2 separate regions of the Homo sapiens genome follow, and region 2 is linked to region 1. Evidence: fine-mapped expression QTL. Tissue or cell type: lung. Region 1 holds a variant in brackets; the other region holds the start of a gene. All regions are shown on one strand. Distances are between the middles of the regions.

Region 1 (2,763 bases):
TACATTCCCTTGTTACCTACCCTTTACCCTTAAGAGAATTTAGCTGATGGCAGAATTTAGCTGAAAGCTTTTGCAAAACCTCCCAGCCTTCCAAGGAGATTTGCGTCTTTCCCTAAAATTTTTTCTTATAACTTTTCCCACCACCCTGACTGATGTCCTACAGATCTTTTTGTTCCAGGTCCTCCCAATTCTGAAGAGATTAACTAAAAGTCTAGCACCTTTTAAAGATCTGAATAGGAAACATTTGTCATCTATTGTCTCTAAGGCAGCCACTATAAGACTTCAAAAGAACCTTGGCCTCCACAGTCTTTTCTCTTAACCTGAACATTTCCTTTCTATGGATCCCAGGTCTTTAGACAAACTCAACCAATTGTCAACCAGAAAACGTTTAAATTTACCTATAGACTGGAAGCCCCTCCCCCCAACCCCCTCACCTCCCCACCCACTTTGAGTTGTCCCGCCTTTCTGAACCAAACCAATGTATTTCTTAAATGTATTTGACTGATGTCTCATGCCTCCCTAAAATATATAAAACCAAGCTGTACCCCAAACACCTTGGACATATGTTTCTTGGGACCTCCTCAGGGCTGTGTCATGGGCCATGGTCACTCATATTTGGCTCAGAATAAATCTTCTCAAATATTTTACAGAGTTTTACTCTTTTTGTCCACACCTCAAAACCCTCCTTGTCTTTTAAAATTAAACCAAATTTGTGTAAATGCTCAGCTTATTCTGAACGAACTTGTTTGTGAGTTTTATTATACATGTATTTTATGGTGTGTGTGTGTGTGTGTGTGTGTGTTTAGCATATAAACTCCTAAAGGATAGGGAAACTTTTTACAGTGGCTTCTTAAAATAGTTATGTGTGTATACCTTTGATGAATGAAAATATGCAAATTTTAAAAACCCCAAATCAAGTTCCGTTGAGCTTTGGATTATAGAGGAGAGCTGAAGGAAGTTCATGTCCACTGTGAAAAATTAAAAAAAGAAATTCAATTTTAACCTAACAGAGACCTAAGGTGTTAGAAACAAATGCTCGGTGCTGCAAAGAAAAATCAGCACTCTGGCAAAAAGCTTTCTCAACAAGGCGATTTACTTCTGCAGAAGAGTGCCACTTGTGCCTGGTGTGGTTGCAAGAGCACATCAAGTGGGGTGGGGAAGAGGTTTTATTCCAAACACAGCAGCTCCTGTAGCTGTGTCCCTTTCTCCATTGGCTGTAGTTGGACTGCACAATCTAAGCTGACCCAATTGGCTACTGTTTAAAATTGAATAGAGTTAACTAGGTGGGATGGGAGAGGCTGTCCGTTACAGTTTTAGGGTGCAGTAAAGGCAGGAAGGATAGTTCTAGGGGGAAGGTCAGTTACAGAGTGGGTAACCAAGGGAGTAGATGTGAGTTTTAGAGTAGGACTGGCAGGAAGGTTGTTTACCCTAACTAGGGGCAAGGAGGCACAAAGAAC[G/A]AGGAAGTTAGACTTTGAAAACTGAGATCAAAGAACAAGGAAGCTGAGCAAGCTGACTCTTTGAAGAGAAACTCACTGTACCTCACAAAGGTCACAAGGCAATCAACTGGCCCAAAATATAAGGAGATGTGAGTACCCACAGGGAAAGAAAAGACAGAAGCACTTCCCTCCATGGGATAGATAACAATCAGATATTAGAAGAAAAGAGTTCGGCTGGGCGCAGACTCTAGTTAAAGTATCACCCATGTAGTGAGAATTCAGTTACCACCCGATTAAGTCCTACACTGAAGGCTACTGTCATAGGCCTAGTCTTTAGAAGTTGATCCTTGAAGAGGAGTCCTTGTTTAGGAGACATGGAACAAGGGAAGCAGTTTAGGTCAGGGGGAATCTAAGCCAGGATTCAGTCTCCCCTGTAAACTGGCTTCCCTGTGTTCCCAGGCAAGCGCTGGGGCCTGGCTTTCTCTGGAGATCATTCTAAAGCCATCCGACTTTCAGCACCCCTGTCTTTTACCTATTGACCAACTGCTTGCCTCAGGGAGGCCTTAAGGGCATAATCTTCTGGGCAAGGTGACTGCCATTTTACTGCACAATGTTCTGCCTGGCAATTAGCAGGCTCTAAACAAATATTTGTTAAATGTTATTCATGTTATTTATTATCTGTTTAAATGCTCCCCCCCGCCACCGCCACCTTGCCCACCTCCAGTGACTCATGTTCAACATAGTCTGAACTGAGTTCAGCATTTCTCCACCCACGTATCCTGTCTTAATCTTATTATTATCCTCCCCGACACAGAAGCAAGAGATTTCTAAGTCAAATTTACTTCTTACTTGCCTTTATTCACTCATAAATAATTCATTAATTCTACAAATATTGCTGCTGAAAACTAAAATAAGTGCTGGTGACACAGAGTCAAACAAAACACAGCCTCTGCTTTCAAAGATAATTGTACCTAGTGGAAAAGGGAGAAAAGTAAATCAAGATTTACAGGACAACGTGGAAAGTGCAATGGCAGGACAAAGAAGAGAGGCCAGGAGAGGAGGGGAAGTCATCAGGAAGAAGTGAAGCTTAATCCGAATTAGAAAGAATGAAGGGGAGGGAACCAAGATGAATCAGGGAGAGGGACAGAGGAAATGGGATGTGCAGAAGCAGGGAGGGCTCCGTGGTGAATGGTTCCAGCCAGGATGCCAGTAGTTCACAGTGGCTGCTTGGAAGCCAAACATCAGGAGAGGCCAGCGAAGTCTCCCAAACGCAGACATCCTGTGGGGCCAGGGAACAGGCACTGCTCTGATTCTACAGAATTTGCAG
Region 2 (2,500 bases), 200 kb before region 1:
AGAGAGATGCCAGAGACAGTCGCCATTTCTGAGCCCTCTCGGAATCGATGAACGGTTTCTCGTTCTCTCGGGGTGCTGCCAACCAGATTTTTAAGCCGTCGTCATACTGCCGACACATCCAAGCACCCCTGGTCATATTTTGGGAACGCACAGCCCTGGCCGACTCCACCGTGAGGGCGCCTGTGCCGGTGTCACCACAATATGCATTGACTTAAAGGGTTTAATTTCCTTATCCCCTCCTCCCGTTTCTTCTCTCTCCTCTCTCTCTTTCTCTCTCTTCCCCTCTCCCTCTCTCCTCTCTCTCTCTCTCCCTCTCCCTCTCTTTTATCTCTCTCTGTCTCTTTTGCCTACATAAATATTACCAGGCTTTGAAGGAAGGTCTGACTTGCTTCCTAATCATCAGCCGACCCCATCCTCTGTAGAGTGGGAAACAATAATGGAGAGAGAGAGAGAGAGAGAGACGGAGGAGGCTGGTGCTGGTGGCCGGCGGCGAGGCTGGGTGCAGGGGGCGATGGTGGAGGTGACAGGGTGGCTGGCGCGGCTCCGGTCACCCAGGCATTGTCAGCGCGCGGGTCCCCATGGCCCCGCGGAGCCCAGCCCGCTCTCCCCTGCCAGGGGCATGCCGCGCCTCCGCTGCCCACTGACGGCGCCCGGAGCGCCTCCCCTCCTCCTCCTCCTCCTCCTCTTCTTCTCCTCCTCTTCCTCCTCCTTCCTTTCCTTCTCCTTCTTCTTCTCCTCCGCCTCCCGCTCCTGCTCCGCGCTGGCTCTCCCAGAGTCCGGAGCCTGGGCTGCCTCCGGCGGGGCGCTCCCTCCCCCCCACCCCCCACCCCGCGCTCTAAGTGCTGCCGCCGCCGCCGCCGCCGCCGCCGCTGCCGCAGGGCCGCCCGCGGGCGCCGCCGCCGGGGCTCCGACTGCTGACGCCGCCTCCCGCGGAGCTCCGGGCCGAATCGCCTGGGCTGGGCCTCCCGAGAGCCACAGTCATCTTCAGTCCGCGGGCTAAGTTGCCGCCATCTTCGTCCTGGAGAAACACTTTTTTGGGGGGAGCGCTGGCTTTTGCGTCATCTCCTCCCGCGCCGAGCTCGCTCCATCCTGGCGCAGTGGCGCCGGCTCGGCCCGGGAGGAGGGAGAAGGCGCGCGGGGGCGGGCGGCGGCGGGGCCGCGGGGCCCGGGGGCCCCCGCCCGGCTCCCCGGGCTCAGGCGCCTGCTCTTTCCTTTCTGTCCCCCTGTCCACGATATTTTGTTTTAATCACTGAAGAGAAAAATAAAAGTCAGACTGCGGACGGCATGGCCGGTGAGGCTCCTCGCGGCCGCGCCGCCCGCACGCTCTGGCTCCGGGAAGCGTCCGAGTTGCAGGCGCCCGGGCAGAGGTCTCTACTGGTGCGAGGGTCTGGGCAGAGTCCTCTCAACTAAGGACCGAGCCACTTCGGATGGAAGGTGGGGGTCCGCGGAGGAAGCTCGAATTGGCTAGAGGAGGGATGAGGTGACATTTGGTCTCTGAATGCGTCTCGGATCCCGGACCGCGAGATCCATCGCTCCCAGTGCGTGCAGTTATTCCGTCCTGCTGTGTGACACGGGAGAATGGCGCGCACGCCTGTGCACCTGCATCGACCGTGTAGCTGCCTGGGTGACAGCCACCCATTTGTCTATGTTTTCTTTCCTATTCTAAAGTAAACGATTAGAAGTGGCCTCATAGAGTCTTAGGAAGAAACAGTAAGCCCTGTGCCACCCGGGGTCACTGCCTAGCCCTGCCCTCCGCGCGCACCGTCCGCGTCTCCGAGGGCTCCTCCTCGGACCTGGACCCTCTGGAGCGGCTTCGACCCTCCCTCTGCCCCCGCTGCCTGCGTCCAGACCCCCTCCCGGGTGGGCTCCTCCGAGGACCTCCGCAGCCGCGGGCGAGCTGGGTGCCTGCGAGTCGCCGCCGCAGTCTGAGCCTCTGGTGCCCCTTAGCGTTGGCTCTCGGAGTTCTGAGAAGGGAAAGGAGACAGACACTCTGGGAAAATCTGGGGTCACCTCGATTCCGGCTCCTACGCTGGATGCCGTGGGCAAGCATCGGTCTCCTTTGATCTGAAGATCCTGCCCACTCCGCCCCTTGCCCCTGCCAGACCCGCGGGAGCAGCAGGTGGCGTGGGTGCCAGACGCTGCCGGTGCGCACCGAGTGCAGCGCTGCCCCGGCTCGCCCCGGGGGTCGCGTGGGACAGCGGTTTGCGGTGTCGCCCTCTCTGCGGTGCTTTCCAAGGACCCTCATGCCCCGCCCGGGTGCACATTCACCACATGGGTCTTACTAGGTGACCTCTTTCTAAGTAAAATGCATTGAGAAACCAAAGGGATGGGGCATCCGTATCCATTTTCCTTTAAGGAGCGCTGTGGGTGTTGGGGATGCGGGAGAAGTAGGTGTTTTTTAAAGAGAAAATTGCAAAACCTCTTGGGCAGGATTCGACCTACTAGCCTCTTCTGCTGCATAATAAGGTACTGTATACACTAAATTTTACCCCTAAAAATT

The links. PIP is the estimated chance that this variant, and not a neighbour inherited with it, causes the effect.
Region 2: it holds the start of NALF1, and the variant in region 1 is fine-mapped to the expression of NALF1 in lung (TOPMed, PIP above 0.99).

What each region holds. Positions count from the first base shown.
Region 1 is chr13:108,068,547-108,071,309 of GRCh38, forward strand. No RefSeq gene overlaps it. Among named protein-coding and RNA genes, the nearest start is that of LIG4, 150 kb to the right of the region's middle. The variant G/A (reference allele first, on the strand shown) is at 1,458.
Region 2 is chr13:107,866,461-107,868,960 of GRCh38, forward strand. It overlaps NALF1 (NALCN channel auxiliary factor 1), which reads right to left and starts at 1,036. Exons shown (of 3, transcript NM_001080396.3): 1 at 1-1,036. The coding sequence starts at 136. LOC124903206 (heparan sulfate glucosamine 3-O-sulfotransferase 4-like) reads left to right here and starts at 213. Exons shown (of 1, transcript XM_047430833.1): 1 at 213-2,500. The coding sequence starts at 437. The coding sequence ends at 1,000. RefSeq lists an enhancer at 1,504-2,072.